Linked DNA regions of Homo sapiens: region 2 is linked to region 1. Evidence: fine-mapped expression QTL. A gene starts in region 1. The other region holds a variant in brackets. All regions are shown on one strand. Distances are from middle to middle. Region 1 holds the start of ELFN2 (extracellular leucine rich repeat and fibronectin type III domain containing 2). Region 2 has its middle 66 kb from the start of ELFN2.

What was found.
Region 2: its variant is fine-mapped to the expression of ELFN2 in testis (GTEx, PIP above 0.99). The same link has a PIP of 0.9 or more in anterior cingulate cortex, caudate, cerebral cortex, hippocampus, hypothalamus and nucleus accumbens.

What each region holds. Positions count from the first base shown.
Region 1 is chr22:37,423,251-37,431,570 of GRCh38, reverse strand. It overlaps ELFN2 (extracellular leucine rich repeat and fibronectin type III domain containing 2), which reads left to right and starts at 4,092. Exons shown (of 3, transcript NM_052906.5): 1 at 4,092-4,273.
Region 2 is chr22:37,357,304-37,365,623 of GRCh38, reverse strand. It overlaps a transcript of ELFN2 not described here. Among named protein-coding and RNA genes, the nearest start is that of ELFN2, 66 kb to the left of the region's middle. The variant A/G (reference allele first, on the strand shown) is at 3,392.

The DNA.
Region 1 (8,320 bases):
GAGCTGTCAGCCAGGGGCAGCTCCTGTGCACCTCTGGGAGAAGGCCGAGCAGATGGGGTTCTGGGATGCAGGGCAGGTGCCCAGCCCACCCATGTCACCTGGCACTGACATTTCGAGGATGGTTCTGCTCCGGTTAATTTTCCTGTGCACGCGTCACTCCACCCACAGCGCAATTAGCCCAGCTGAGGGCAGGAAGTGGTACCTGGATTCACATTCCTCCAAGACTGTCCATGGTGGTGGGGAGAGGAGAAATTAGGGCGCTGGTGGGAAGGGGGGGTGGATGCTGTGTGCCCGGAAGAGAACCTCCTAACGTCTAGATTGGTGGCTTATTAATAAGAATAATGTGTGAAAATGGCCTTGCACAGTGCCTGGCCCTGAGCGAGCCCCTGACACATGGTTGCTACTTGATAGAGGTGACCAAGTGAAGAATAAGCTGGGGGAGGTGGACACATAGAGAATGAATAATGACATGATGTGATGTGTGCTGTCACTGAAGCCTTGCAGAGTGTTCTGGGAGCCGGTGGAGAAGGAAGTAGCTCAGCCAGCTCAGTTTAGGAGTGGTCAGGGGAGGCTTCACTGAGGAGGCGGCTTTCAAGCAGTACCTGAGGATAGGTAGAAAGTAGACAGGTAGGGAAGGGATCTGAGAGGAGGAAAGTCCTCCCACATCAAGGGAACAGGATCAAAAGCACAAAGGTGTGAAGATGATGGGGTGACAGATCCAACTCCATCTTCTATATGGTGGCAGAAAGTGAGTCTGGAAAGGGCAGATATTGGTGTTGCTGGGACCCAGAACATATGTGGGATGATATTGAAGATGCTGGAGGAATAAATAAGGACCAACTGCAACGGGCCTTATTTAGGCAAGTTAAAGAGTTTGGAGTTTTGGTCAGGTGCGGTGGCTCATGCCTGTAATCCCAGCACTTTGGGAGGCTGAAGCAGGAAGATCACCTGAGCTCAGGAGTTTGAGGCCAGTCTGGCCAAAATGGGGAAACCCCGTCTCTACTAAAAATACAAAAATTAGTCAGGCATGGTGGTGGGTGCCTGTAATCCCAGCTACTTGGGAGGCTGAGGCAGGACAATAGTTTGAACCTGGGAGGCGGAGGTTGCAGTGAGCGGAGGTTGCACCACTGTGAGTGGAGATTGCACCACTGCACTCCAGCCTGGGTGACAGAGAGAGGCACTGTCTCTAAAATAAATAAATAAATAGTGTTTGGATTTTATCCTGTAGCAGAGAGGGCTTACCATTCATCTCTGTATTTATTCCTGAGGCAGACATCACCAATTGATCATGCCATTTTCTGCAAAGGGTGAGCACCTCTAGGCAGCTGCTGCCAATCACTTGTCATGAGAAAGAGAACATATTTGCCTCTGTGCATGGGCTCTGGGGAGCTACTGGAGGGTTTAAACAGATGGGTGGTGAGGGAGTTTGTTGCAGGTATCCAGGTGACGGCAAGCCTGGTCTGGGGCAGTGACTGTGGGAATGGACATGTTATTGCTTACGTTTGTCTCGGTCTTAACCATTCAGCTACGGATTCTAGGCAGTCTCCTGAGCTCCCCGCTCCCCGCATTCCCAGGTCCTCAGGGTTCCCTGTGTGTGTGTCTGTGTGTTTGTGTGTGTGCATTAGGTCTGCCTGGGCTTGATTTTAATAAGGAGCTTGCTATATGTCTGGAGCTGCACTATCTCACATGGCAGCCACAAGCCACATTATGGCTATTTAAATTTAAAGTAATAACAATTAAAATTAAAAATTTAGTTCCTCAGCCACATTAGCCACAATTCCAATCACTCAATAGCCACATGCAGTTAGTGGCTACTGTCTTTGACAGTGCAGACATGTATCCTTTCCACTATGGTCTAGAGAAAGCCCAGTCGAGTGTCTAGATGGTGTGGTCCACTATGACCCTCAGGCCAGGCCAACTCTATCTTCTATATGGTGGCAGAAAGTCAGCTAAGAGCTGAAACTCTTGTCAATGTACATCTGCCCAGTAAGGGCAAAGTCTCCAAAGGGAGATTCTTAGACCGTTTTAGAGCTTCAAACAAATTCTGACCAAATCCAGCCAGACCTGGAGGTCTCCAGGGAGAAGGGAGTGGCCGGCACTGTGCTGGGGGTACTGGCTGCTTTTGCTATATTTCTTTCACAAAGGAGGAAACAGGCTCAGAGAGGGTTGTGACTTGCACTCTGGAAGATGACTGGGAATGTCTCGGAAACAGAGCAGCAAGAGGCTGTTTTGCCACTGACTCCCTGGTATTCTTTGGGGTCATCACTGCTCAGTTTCTTGGGCAGGAGCGGATTAGGTGGCATCTGCCAGTGCCCATCTCAGAAAGTGTCTGGGCCTGAGAGCCACAGGGGGGCTGTTGGCTTGGGGAGCACTCTAATTTCTCGAGGGATCCGCCAGAGGGCGCAGAGGCCGTTATGTTCCGCCTGAGGGGCTCTTCCAGCAAGGTCTTGGAGCTGGGACCCTGCTTCTTGCCCAGCCTTGTCAGGGATACACACCATGTGTTGGATACCGCCCCTGCCCTGTAGGAGGGCTCAGTTTAGAGGGCAGAGACAGCACATGGCTTGTTTGGGTTTGCAGCGAGGGACCTTGAAGGATGGGTAGGAGTGTGCCAGGCAGCCTGGGGTGCAGGTGGGGAACGCCCAATAGTCCTTCTGCATACCCCAGGACAACAAGTGGCCTGTGACCCAGTGCTTGTCTGCCCTCCCAGCCCCATCCTGGGCCGTTCCCTGTTCTTAGTTGAAAGGAGGGAGGAATTTCTGGACAGACGTTCTTTCTGCTCTACTAATACCCAACTCCGTGGAGTTCCCTGTACACACATACAAAGCTGTTTCATGCCTCTGTGCCTCTTTGCACATGCTGTTCCCAGAGTCCAGGACACCCTTCTCCTCCTTCTTTAGCTGGCCAACTCCTACTCATCCATCAAGATTCAGCTCAGGCAGTGGCTTCTTCTGGGGAGTCTCCTTATTCCAGACCTGCATGAGATGTCCCGACGGGGAGTTCCCGCAGCCTGGACTTCATCTGCTGTGCAACACCTGAGAACAGGCGCTGGTGCATGCGGTCCTATAAAAGTGATGGAGAAGTACAGGGCCTGCTGGCAGCAGGCCTCCGACATGCAGCTCGCAGGGCCTCGGGAGGAGGTGCTTGCATGCCCAAGCACCAAGTTATAGGCCCCGGGTGCCAGGCTTCTTGCATCTTCCACCTCCTCCTCCTCCTCCCAGCATCCACCCCTTTGCAGGTGGCAGCAGGTGGCAGGGGCTTTGGCGTAAGGGGCGGGGAACTGGGCCTCTGGAAGGCTAATGAAGGTTCTCTAGCTACAGATGAGCCCAGTATCCCTTGGACCTACTCCTGGAGGGGTGGGGAAAGGCAGTGAGTGCCCTGGCACAAGGTAGGGGAGCGTAAAGTCTAATACTGTCTGTAGGCTCCCTGTGTAACCTTGGGGGAATCACTCCTCTCCGAACCTCAGTTGTCTGGCCTGTAAAATGGGAACGCAGCAGCCGCACTTCCCCAGTCGCCAGCGGTTGAACGCGGGACCAACCAGCAGGGCGCAGGCGGCAGGGCATGGAGGTACAAGGCGGAGAGGGGGCCCATCAGCGGAGGCGGAGTCCAGGGGGAGGGCGAGTCCAGGCGCACTTCGGGCGGCCCCGCCGCAAGTTTGCCCCCAGCTGTTGAATGCGCTGGCGGAGGCCGGACCCGGACCCGGACCCGGATCCCGCGGGGTGAGCAGCGCAGGGGGCCGCGGCCGGGACAGGGGTCCGCCAGGCCGGGGCTCGGGTCCGTGGGGCCGCCTTCGCCTCCCCGGGCGCTGCAGCTGCAGCGGCGGCGCCAGGCGCGGCCCCAGCCCCGCGGGCGTGTGTCTGCGAGCGCGCGTGTGTCCGTGGAGCGTGCGGCCGGCTCGGGGGCGGGAGCGGGCTTGCTGCGGAAAGGCCTGCGGAGGGCACCGGGAGCGGGCGGGCTGGCGGACGGACAGACGGGGACGGACAGACGGACACAGCCTGCCGCGGTCCCTGACGCGCGCCGCTTGGCCCCTCCCGGGCGCCCTCCCCGCCGAGGCAGGGGCAGAGGCGCGGCGGCGGGGAGGAGGGGGCGGCGGCGTCTGCGCGCACACGCGCGCTCCCAGACACACACACAGACACACGCGGGCCACCCCACGGCCACGCACCCCGCACCCACACCCGCGCTCACACTCACATTCACACTCACACTCACACGCGCAGGCCCCGCGGCCGCCGCTTCCCGGAGGCGGTGCTTGGCCCGGATCCCGGCTGGGGCTGGGGTAAGTGAATTCCTCTGGATCCGAGCGCCGCGACCGACCGACCGGGGAGACGGTGGGAGTCGGGGCTGGAGCCGGAGGGCACCCCCTCCGTCAGTGGGGGTGGGGCTTGGAGAGGGACACGGAAGGGGGGATGAGACGGGGAGAGCCACCCCCAGTGTCTCCTGGGTCTGGGGATCCCCGTGAGACCCCCGGGGGACCACCCTGCGCGAGGGAGGTGGTGGTGGTGGCGGTGGGCGGAGGCGGTGGGAGGACACCGAGGACGGTCGGTGAGGTGAGCGTTTCTGGGGGTGGTGCAGAGGCTCGATGGTGGACGGTGTGCCAGCCGGTGCCACACTGCACCTCTCTGCCCTCATCTTTTCGAATCGGGGGCCCTAACCCCTCTCTTTCACGGGGTGCTGCCGGGTCAAGGCATTCATCCTCTAGCTGGTAAGAGGGGTTGACGGGGTGGATGCCTTCTAGGGGAAGGGGGGCCAGGGTGGGGCTTGACGGCGGTGGGGTTGGTAAGACCAGAATTGGGGGGTGGGGACCCTTTCAGAGGCGCTGGCCAGGGACAAGGAGGGAGGCAGCCCAGGGAGGCGGCATAAATCGCAGACACTGCAGCTCTGGCAGGGCCGGGGCCACTGCCGGGTGTGTGTGTGTGTGTGTGTTTGTGTGTGTGTGCGAGCGCGTGCCAGTGTGTGTGTGTGCGTGCGTGTGTGGGCTCCAGCAGCTGTCAGGGGACGGGGAGGGGGTGGGTGTGTTGGCTGGTGGGGCGCCGTGTGCATGTGGAGAGGATTGTGCGTGCTGTGTGTGTGTGGTGTGTGCGTGTGTGTGTGGACATGGGGTGGACCCTGCTCTCTGTCTGTATACACACAAGCGCACACACGCACACTGTCAGTGGCCTGGCAGGATTTCCTCGGAATGTTTGGAGGGAAGGGAGCTGATGTGTGTGTGTGTGTGTGCGCGCGCGCGCGTGTGCATGCACACTCGGGGAGCTTGTGTCCAAAACAGAGGCCACAGGCCATGGTGTGTCAGGCGTGCCCAAGGAGGGAGACGAGAAGGGGACAGTGGTGCTGACCGTGCACTCAGCTGGGGAGGAACGTGGTACTCGGCACTTTCTGCAGCTCAGGGCTCTGTGCTGTGCCCCTTCCCCCTGGACTCCTCCCACCCAGCAGCTGCGGCTGGAGGGCACTGCCTTGGTCCCTTGCTGAGACGCAGGTGTTGGGCTGGAGTGTGTGTGTGTGTCTGGGCTGCGGCTGTCGCTATCAGCAGGCCAGGCTGTCGGAGTCAGAAAGCTGGAGGGAGTGGGGTGCTGGCAGCACCTGGAGGAATGTGGTGGAAGCTGTGGGGCGCGGACTGCCCGGCGCGGTTACCGAGAGGCGTTTTAATATGCAAGTTGCATCATGAGATGGGACTGGGAGTGTGTGTGTGTGTGTGTGTGTGTGTGTATGTGTATGTGCATGGCTGACACCCCTGTTCTCGTGGCCCGTGGACACCTGTGGGACGTGTCACGTCTGGGCCATCAGCAAAGCATGTGGGCATGTGTGTCCCCTGAGAGGGGTGCACAGGCAGGTGCTGTCCTGATGAGCCGGGGGCCCTGCAACTGTGTGGGTGGGGAGGTGGGTACCTCTGGGCCATCAACGCCTAGGCAGGAAGAAAGAGTGTTAATTGTGGGGACATCAGGAAAAAGTATGTATGTGAGGTCAGTGAGAACCTCAGGTGTGACATAAGCTCCAGGCCGCAGGTGACGTCACTGGGACAGTTTTGTCGGAGGTTGCTCCCCCCAGCCAGAGTGTGTAAATGTGATGTCACGGGAGTGTGTGTGGCCGAGTGTGGTTATGTCTCTTGTATATGAGGGGTGGGAAGGGGAGAGGGATGGAGCCTTAGGACGCGTGGCGTGGTCCCTCCCAAGAGGCCGCCTTTCCCAGCATCCTGAGTGGGCATGGGACCCCTTTCCTTAAGTCCTGCCCCCTGAAGAGTGCACCTTCCAGGACTGGAACCCCCGAAGGAGGTTCTCACATCAGCACCATTGGCTGCTGAACTCCTTTGCCAGGTGGGCCTGGAGGCCTCCAATGTGCTGCAGCCCCCTATCTGACCTCCCCAGTCCCTGTTTTCCTCTTCATCCCAGCCAGGCCCACCACCCCTGGGTGGATGTGCTTTAATGAGTGAGTGTGTCAGTGCATGTGACAATAGAAAATGGCCATAGCCAGGGAGCGTGAGGCCATTGGTTCGAATCCCATTTTGCTGCTTTCTGTGTTTTGTGATTTAAGCATTCGCGTCGCCTCTCTGAGCCTCAGTCTCTCCTCTGTAACATGGGGTGAGGGGTTAGAGAGGTGAAGGGGGTTAAGGAGACCATGGGCCTTGTGGGGGGCGGGTGCTGATGCCTGGCATATGGTGGGGGCTCAGTCCACGTGAGCTCTGTCCTCTCACCTCCTATCCCCCTAGCCCAGAGTAGCTGCTTTCCTGTTTTGGTTTAAGTCTAACTTTGCAAAGGACTTTCTTTTCTTTCCTTGGATTTCCACGGCAGTTCTTTGAGGTGGGTGAGTTAGCCACTATTATGTGGATATTTGACAGATGAGTAAACTGAGTTCTGGAATAAGCTGTCTGTTGATTTAATGTGAATTCCATCCCCCCCCCCGCCGCCCTCAGTGGCTACAGGGAGACACATTTGATTACCCAGCCCCTTCTCGAGGGGTACCTTCCTTTCCTGGAGAGATATGGAGCTATGAGGAATTGGTGGTGGGGTGCCAGGTGATGAGCCCAAGGCCAAGAGTCTCTGGCTGGAGGAGAGGCTGCTCTTGACTCCCAGGTCAGTGCTCTCTTGCTCTTCCACCCACAAGCTCCAGAAACAGTCAGCGTGATAGGAACGGGCACACTCAGCAAGCCTTCTCCAGTGGGGCGTGTCTAGGGCGGTCACTGGGGGCTCCATGCCTGTTCCTCAATATCCCCTGAGGTCTTGTAGGATGCTTGTTTTTGGCAGCAGAATTGGGTTCCAGTGACACCCCTGCCGCATCTGCATCCTGGCTGTGTGTGACAGAGGTCAGCCTCTCCTGTCTCTGTAAGAGGGTGGTGGCAGCTTCCCTTGCGGGTGTGATGTGTGAGTGTGAAAGGGTGACAACCGTGTGCAGGGCTGGGAGGCACACATTGCTGCTACCCTCACCTGCTCCGGCCACAGTGCCTGGGGGCCAAGCTCCTCTCTCGGTGCCCCCACCTGCCCCATGTTGTGACATGTGCTGTGTGGAGTGGATGGCCGAGAAGTAGGATTGCCTCGAAACCTGACGCTTCTTAGCAAGTTAGACCTCTTCAGGAGCTGTGTTAATCGTCTAGAAGGTTTACCCAGTCCTCTGCCTCCTGCCGTCCCAGCCCAATCCCTGATTAAATTAACCTTCTCTTGGCTCAATTACCACCTGGGGCAGAGGCATTGACATTATTACTGGAGATGGTGTCTGGGGGTTGGAATAATTGAGCCCCCTCTCCTTCCCCCTAGCTCTGCCGACAGTCCCCAGGAAAGCCCCAGAGAAGCCCTGAGGACTCAAGAGCCACCTGGGCAGGCTTGCTTATGCCTGGGGTGCCAGAGGAAGGGTGCTGGCTGCACGATGCTGCTGATTGAAATAGTAATAACTATAGTGATAATAATAATAATGATATCAGCTAATATTATTGAGCCCCTACTGAGAGCCAGGCCCGGTTCGAAGCTCTTTATGGGCGGCATTCGTTTAGTCCCACAAAAGCCAGCTGCAGCAGGCACTATTATTATTCCTCATTTTGAAGACAAGAAACAGAGAGGTTACAGACCAGTCCAGGGCCACACAGCGATGGAACCAGGACTGGAACCCTCGAAGGGAAACTCTCACATCAGCACCATTGGCTGCTGAACTCCTTTGCCAGATGGGCCTGGAGGCCTCTACATCTTGGCCTACCCCTCTCACTGAAGGCCCTTTCTGGGCCTTGCTTTGCTTATCTGTAAATGGGTGCAGTGACCCTGCCCTAGGGAAGCTGGGGGTGGCGGACGCCCTTTGCTTTGGCTGCAAGGAGAGACAGGAAAGGAGGGGCCTCGTGGGTGGTGCC
Region 2 (8,320 bases), 66 kb after region 1:
ACTTCTCAAGCCTCGCCCAAGGGCTAAACTGCTGGTATATAAGTTCTTCCTCCTTTTCCTTCCTTCTTTTTTTCCAAGATATCTGTAACTCAAACTTCACCGACCACCGGCCCTCTCCAGCCCGGGCAGGCTTCCTTCTCTAGCTTCTTTGATGTTCTTCCCCGCAGCAGGGCTCCAGGGAAGCTAGGTGTCCTCAGCACAGTTCCCTGGTCTCTGCTGGGGCTTGGTTTGAAGGAGTTGACAGTTCCAAGGTGACTCTGGTGACCCTTGTAGCTACTGGGCCAGGAACTTCCTTTTCTGTTTAGTTGTTTAGCTGAATATTCCCCTCCCTCAAGCTCCCCCTGCCTCAACAACTATAAATGTTTTCCAGAGGTGAGCCTAAAATGAGCCCTTGTGGCTGCAGGGTTTGGGGGATCACTGGATCTCACTGGTTCTCAGGGTCTCCTTTATTTAGTCTCTGAAGGCAGGGTTCCAGGCACTCAGCCCCAGGCCCAGTGTCTCAGAGGCTGGCCTCCTCCTGCTCCTGTCATTGGTGGGTCCAGGGTCACTGTGGGACCCACTGGTTCTCTCCTCTGGGCTCAGCCTGGGCAGCCTGTCCTGGACCCCTGCCCCACCTGCTCCTCTGGTGCCCTCCCACCATCTGCTGTTCATTTTTGTCACAGCCCGGAAGCATTCCTGCTCCTTCTCAGATTTAGGAGGTACCTTGTCTCTCTGGTCAGGCTGAGGCACTCAGGTCAGCATCCAGTGACCTCAGGCTGAACTGCCCAAGCCTTTGTTCGGGGGCAGCCTGGGGCCCACCGCCCAGCCCCAGCCTCCTTGCTTCCCAGAGGCAGAGCCCACCTGCCCTTTTCTCAGACTCCTGTTCTCCAACTGCTACCAACCCCTCTTCCAGGAAGGCCCCTGGATTTGGCCTGGATTGTTATGGCTTGCTTTAAATGAACTCCCTTGTCCTAAGCTATTCCCTGTGACTGGTGTCACAGCGTGGCACTCATCCCTGGCCTGTGTCTACAGGAGCTGTGTCCTGCTGGCTCTGGTGGCCCATGGGGTTTCCTGCTCCCTTCCTGCCTCCATGGGAGTTGGCTGAACTGTGGGGACCCTCTGGGATGACCCAGGGCTTGGCCCCTCACTGTTTTCCTGCCTGGGCCCCAGCTGGCCCCTGTCCCCTCTGAGTGCCCTCACACAGGCCCAGTGCAGCTGTCCCAGTGGGGCTGTGGCCAGGCCAGTCTCTCTCTTGCTCTGCACCCCCGGCTCTTTCCTGGCAGCCCTTGTGCTTCTTCCGGAGCCCCTCATCCCTGAGGCTGCCCCGTGGCCCTGTGCCTGGCCCTGAATCCCAGGCAATCCTCCCTTGCTGCCGCCACCACCCTGGCCTCCCCGAGGCTTCCATCCTATTGGTGTTGTGAGGTTAGGGTCTGCAAGCCCCTTTTTCCAGGAAAGCCTTTACTGTCTAGTCCTTGGCCAAGGGAGGCTTAGGTGATCCCTGCTGGCTCAGGTGTTTTCTTCATATTCTTCCCAGACTGTGGGGCTGGGGAATCCAATTCTGAGTTCTGCTCTTGGTCTCACTTTACCCCAATTCCCCTGGATTGCAGGTCCCATCTGCAGCTTCCTGGTCTCTGCATCTGAGGACTCCCACATGGGGAACTGGTTGGCCCCATGAGCCTCCTTCCCAAGGCCCTTTGTCTGCAAGGAAGGAGACCTGATGCTAGGTGTGCATTGGAGGTGACGGTTCTGGCCTCCCGCTGTCACTGTCTTCCCAACCCTGCACCTGTGGGTCACCCTCTGCTCCTTGTTGTCCAGGCTGCTCTCGGCCCTGCCGTTCTGGGAGCTCAGCCATTGCCCCCTCCCTCAGGCATGTGGGGACATGTCAGGAAGCTAGGGCTTTTCTGCTTTCCCCACCACTCCTGCCTGGAGGGTTTCACGGCTAGACTCCTAGGGCCCAACCTCCAGTTGAGGCCCGGGCTGCCTCTCCGGCATATGCTGGCAGCCCCTTCTCCTTCCCTAGGCCTAGGGCCCCAGCCTGCTGTCAGCGCCAAGCCCACGACACCCATTCTTACCCAGTCCCCACCCCAAATCCCCCTCTCTCTGTTGGCCTCCTCTAAAACTGCCCTCACCTGCATCTCAGACCGCGCATCTTCCGTCCTCCCCGTCCTTGCCAAACTAAGCAAGGTCACGTGTGAAGGAGTTCCCAGGGGGGTGAAACTCCTCCAGCAACTCTCGCCTCCCCTGATTTAGATAACTCCCAGAATCTGCAATGGTCTAGGGGGAGAAAACTCACTCATCTGCCCCTCTCTCTTCTCACTTACTTTTCAAACAAATTGTATGGCTCAATCCCCATATGTTAAGCACCATGGCTGTGAATTTATAGACTTCAGTCCGGTTTCTATTGCAGAGAACAGAATTCTCTGTAACTAATTTAAGCAGGAAAAAAAAATTCACAAGAGGAAACCAAGTGGTGGATGGAATTGTCAGGAGGGCTGCAGACCAGACTCAGGGGTAGCCTTTTCAAACTGACTTTTAAAATAACTACGCAGGACTGACCCACCAAGGGAGCTGCCACCTGTTTCTGCTTCATGGGGCTGCTGAGGGAATGAATCGGTACCTCGGGGGGCCCTGGGCTGCTGTTGCCAGGATCACAGCAGCTGCAGGGGTACCCCTTGGGTGCTGGCAATGGGCTGTGGACTCTCATTCTAGGGCAGGGACGATGGCGGTAGAAGCATCTCTCTGCCTCACTGCTTCCTTCCAAGGCTCTCAGAAGAGCATCTGATCTGTAGAGCCCAAACATCTGTCCTGCAGCTTTAAGAGGGTTTGGCAGGGTTGGGCTGATGCCTCACATCTGGTGTGTGGACCAGGGTGTGTTTATTTCCTCGGCAGCTCCATGAAGTAGGGGCTTTACCCCTGCTCTACACTTTGGGGGAAAGACTCAGAGACAGTAATTGGCCCAAGCAAGCACAGCATACCCAGAAGAGCTGGAAGGAGCTCTAACCCACTTTACTCCCAAACTTTGCCTGTTCCCCTGGAGGTCAGGGCCCAAAGACCCGAGTCCCAGATCGGGCATGGCCCAACGTCCCAACCTTAGGCCAGTGGAGTGTCGAGAGATGCCACCTGTACAATAATCCTGGGGCCTGTGCCGGCCCTGTCAACCCCTGCATCTCGTGTCTTGTTGCTAAAATTCTGGTTCCTGCTGAGATGTCTGCTCCAAATCTTTCCTTTAAAGATGGGAAGAATGAGCCCCCCAAAATAAGGGTTGGAAACGGGGAGAGCCTTCCTGTGGTCATAGGAAGCATGATCAGGGAAGAAGAGGTTACGTCTGGCAGTTATTTAGATTATAACCCAGAGACGGGGGGAGGAGGAGGCAGGTGGCACCAGGATTAAGGGGGTCCCTGCCACAGGGCAT[A/G]TATGTGAGAAGGGTCTGCTCTGACCCTCTCCTAGCCCCCTGCTCTTCCCCACGGGCTGATGAGTCTGCAGGGCCCACGGGCATTCCCAGACACTTTCCACTTGACCATGCTCCAAGCACCTGGGATGCCAGGATTGACTGTCCAGTTGGCCCCGGACATGTTTCCAAGGCCTGTCCTTCCCAGGGTGGACCGTGCCACCCATGTGGGCACTCCTAGGCATGAGAGATGACCAAGGAGTAGCTGCGTGTGGGAGGTGTAGGCAGGGCTTGAATGCGTGGGGTGGCAGTCTCTATGCATGCCTGTGAGACCCTTTAAGTTGTGAGATAGTGCTGTGGGCGAGAAGAGGGTGTCCTATGGGCCGGAGAATGGGGCTTGACTTTCCATAGGCCACCACATTTAGGGAGGCCAGGAATTTGAAATTCAAACCTGTTAGAGGTCATCGTGAAGGTACATTTGTCAAGGCAGGAGGATATTCTAACAGTTTGTTAGCTGAATGGAGAACTTTTCAGTATTTAGACACACAGGATTTGGGCTTCCCTTTGTACTCACGCCCAGGCCTAGGAAATACTAGGGATAGGCCTGGGCTCTGAGTTAATGGGGCCTGGGGGTAGAAGTCAGATGGTGTGGGATGGGCCCACTGTTTGGAGGAAAAGGCTATACATGGAGGAAAAGGGAGAGGAAGTGGTTTTGCTGTTTTGTGTCTGGGCAGGAGCAGGGTGGGCTTGGAAGGCTGCTCACAGAGGAGGGAACGACCCTGCGGGGACTGGGGAGGTGGAAGGGGAGATGGCGTCACTTGGGCCCAGGAGTTGAGTGGGGCTGGCAGGAACTTCTCCTGGGGGTGGGAGGAAGGTGGGATGGAACTGGCAACTCATGGAGGGCAGGATAAGGGGGTAGGGAGGAGGGGGGCTCAGAAAGTCACTTTACATTTGGAGTGTCTTCCTTTTGCCCTTTCCAGCTAAGTAAAAAGCATATTTTTCTCTTTACTGCTGCTCAGCAGCATCTCATGGCCCCATTGCTTTTCCTAGTTTCTTGCTCTGAGGGTCAACTCACAAGTCTTCTTCTACATGCCATGTGAGGCACCAGCCCTGGCTGGCACCTGTGGTGGGAAAGCCTAAAGGAGACAGCACCTCTGTCTCTGGGGAGCTGCCGGGATGTGGCTGTCCCTTAGCTGTTTATAACGGTCCTTTGACATGGTTCAGGTGAGGGTTAAAGGCGGGAAGTAACCCTAGGAGACAGTGGAGCCTCGAGTGGCTCAGTCCCTGCTGTAAACCCCATTCCAGAGGGCACAGTCCACCCATCACATAGCACTAGAGGGGAGCGCCGCGCTTCACTCTGCCCACTGCAGTGAGGCTTCTGGGCCATCTTGGTTCTTCATCTCCATTTTTGTTCTGCCTTGTACGAGCCTCTTCTTTGTTCTGCTTTGTTGCCTCATGGCCAGAGCTGCTCTTGCCTCCTGTTTTGTGTCTGATATTTCAGTTTCTGCAGCTCCCATTTCCTGTCTTTGGCCCCTGCTTTCCCAGCTGCTTTCGGTCTAAGGAGCTTTCTGACTTTAGGACCTGAGAGTGGAAGTCTCCCCACTGACTCCCTGTTGACAGCTGATCATCGACTCCCCTCAGTCTCACCCTGAGCTGTCCCTGTGCCAGCCGGATGGAGGTTGCTAAGCAGGGGTGGCGTGGGGTGTACAGAGGTACGTGGTCCACGGCTCTTAACTGGAGGACTTCACTGAGGGACGAGTCACCCACTGTGTGTCCGCACTGTGCTCACACACAGAGCTTCCAGTGCCACCTCACAAGAGAGCCATGAGGTAGGCATGAGGCCGTTTGAGTTCTGTTGTACTCCAATGAGGAAAAGGTACTTACTTTTACCCTCCGTGTATGGACCAGGGAACTGAGGCCCAACAAATGCTGATTAACGCAGGCAAGGGCTGGCTGCCCACTCTCCCTGACTCCAGGAGCTCATGTCCCCATCCCAGGCCTGGCTGCCTCTACACCCATAAATGCATGATGAGACACCCCAGGCCAGACTATGAACTTAGGGCTGGACTGACCACCAGGGAGTGTGGTTGAGGTGGGAGACGGAGACTCAACTCTAGACCAGATTGAAGAGTGGCTAAAACAGGAAGAGGCCCTGAAAGCACCTCTCTCCAGAAGTCATGCCCACCACCAGCACCATGAGTTTTACCTTTGTCTATAGCAATACCCGGAAGTTACTGCCCCTTTCCATGGCAATGACCTGGAAGTTACAGCTCCTTTTCTAGAAATTTCTAAATAACCTGCCCCTTAATTTGCATGTGATGAAAAGTGGGTATAAACATGACTGCAGAACTCCTCCTGAGCTGCTGCTGTCAGCACACTGCCCGTGGGGTAGCCCTGCTCTGCAGGGGCAATCACAGAGCTGTAACACTATCACCTCTGTAAAGCTGTTTCTTCCACCACCAGCTCACACTTGAATTCTTTCCTGAGCAAAGCCGAGAAACTTCTTAGGGTAGGCTCCAAGTCTGGGGCTCGTCTGCCCTGCCCCATGGTGGTCAGGCAGTACTGGGCCTTGGAGTGCTCCTCCGAACTCCAGAGCCTCAATTTCCACCTCTGTGAAATGGATTGAGCTACTCCTGCTTCACGTAGCTGTATCGAGGCACGGAAGCCTTGAGAGCTGAGGAGCGTTCATACCGTGGCCTGGCCCAGGTAGGGGCCGCTCGAGAATGTTGGCTGAATGAAGGAGGCTGCGACAGTGTTGCAGATACAGCAATGGAAGCAGATGCTTTGGTCAAAAGAAATAGACCCCATAGAGGGCCGAGAGCCAGGAAGGAGAGAGCCAGGAGAACCTCCGAGTGGGGTAAAGGAAGAGGGGAGTGGCAGGGGCCTGGCCAGGGAGGCCAGGGGAAGGCTCCCAAGAAGGACCAGGCCAGTGAGGGCAAAGCCGAGCCCCTTGTGCTGAGGGTCAGTGACAGCGACCTCACACCATCTGAGTCTTTCTGAGATCCAAACTTGGTTACTCTCCTTCCCTTCCTCATTTGGACCAGATGATTGCGTTTTACAAATTATATTTTCAATTCCCTGCCGGGTGGCCTTAATCCAGGTCTCCATCTCTCTCTTGGATTCCTGCCACAGCTGGAGACAGTCACGGAGGTGCTAAAGTGTCGACTCACTGATTCCCTACTTAGTGCACTCCCCCAAGCCCCAGGGCTTCCAATACCAACATATGGATATATGTTGGTGACTTCCAGCCCCACGTCCATCTCAGATAGCCCAGCGGCCCCCAGTCCTCCTGCTTCCTATGTAAGTGGCAGTCCCCTGCCACTCAAGCCAACATGATGGGCCGTTTTTTTGGAGCTAGTCTCCACCTTCCCCTCATCTCATACTGACTTGATCTTGACAACTCATCTCAATCTGGCTGCTCCTCTCCATGTACCCATTCCCCTTGGGGTGCAAGCCACACCACCCTTCACTTGGGGGATGATAGCAGCCAGTGGGCCCACATCTGGCTGTGCCCCTCATCTGTTAGATAATCTCACAGGCTCTTCCAGCCATGCTGAGAAGGCCCATCACCGACTCATGCCTCTGGACCTTGGCACCTGCCAGAAATGGTAGTCCCACTCCCCCTGCCAGTGATTGGCTTAGGAATGGCCACGGGACCCAGTTCCAACCAGGAAGAGGAAATGGGACGAGAAGAATGATCCTCCTTTAGAATCGGTTGTATCTAATCGGGATGCAGATGCCTGAAACTCTGCAGTTTAGGAAACACTAGGGCCCTCTCTGTGAAACATTGAGATGTCCAAGTGGAAAGAGAACAAATCCTGTATTCGAAGAAACGGTGGACCGAGGCTCGCCCCGGCGGACCTGGACCTGCGTGCCTCTGCCTTCTCATGTGAACTGATGTCTCTTGCTTGAACTCACTTGAGTAAAGGTTTTGTGCCACTTGTAGCATGTGCAGATGTAACCATCAACACGGAACTCCTACTTCCTGGAGACTGGGGGGGATTTGAACTTACTGTAGGTTCACGGAGTGACAAAGCTGTTTCTAGGGCCGATGCAGCCGTGGGCCATGTGAATAGGATCACGGGGTCTGGCCTGGGGGAGGTGAGGGTTCTGTGCTCTCCCGTACTGGCCAGACTCCACCTGGAGAGGCTATGGTCAGTCCAGGGTGAATATGCCAGGAGGGAGGTTGACCCGCCAGGTCCACCTGCTGAGAATGATAGCAATTAGAAGGGTTGGGAATCCCTGCCACGCAAGGGATGAGTGAGAAAATGGGGCTTTTTCTCCTGGCAAAGAGAAGGTTGGCTGTGGGACTTCACTTCGGCTTCAGATGCGTGCAGGGTGATGTGTGGAGGGGGTGGCCACGCTCGTGCTGCTGACCAAGAGGAAGTCGATGACAGTACAGAGTTTGTCAACAATTGAGGGCAAATTCAGACTTCAGTGGGTATCATTCTCACCCAGGGAAGTTGGTAAAAACAGAAGGGCCCAGGCCCTGTCTTTCAATAAGCCTGGGCTCCAAGTTGTTAGCACTCTAGGGGGTTCTAGGGCACCGCAACATTTTTGCAATGCCTGACTCAAGGGAAGGAAGCCAACATTTGTGAGGCATTTAACGTGAGCCACGTGTTGAGCTGGGCCCATCCCTGTGGCTCCCATTTGATTTTGACACAAATTCTTAGAGCCAAGCACTGCTACAGATGGTTTTGGGAAGTGTAGTGAGTTCCCCATAAGAAGTGTGGCTAAAAATCAGTAAGAAAAGGATGATCAGTGTGAGAGGAAAAGGAGAGTAGGAAAAGAGAATTCTTAGATGAAGCCATAAAAATGGCGAAGAAACCTATGCAAAGATACTCCTCTGTTGTGGCAGAGATCACAAGCTGTTCTCCAGTATCCACCTTCCCTTCTTCCACAGGAGCAAAACCCTTCATTTTCAGCCAGGCATGTGGTCTATTATTAAGACAT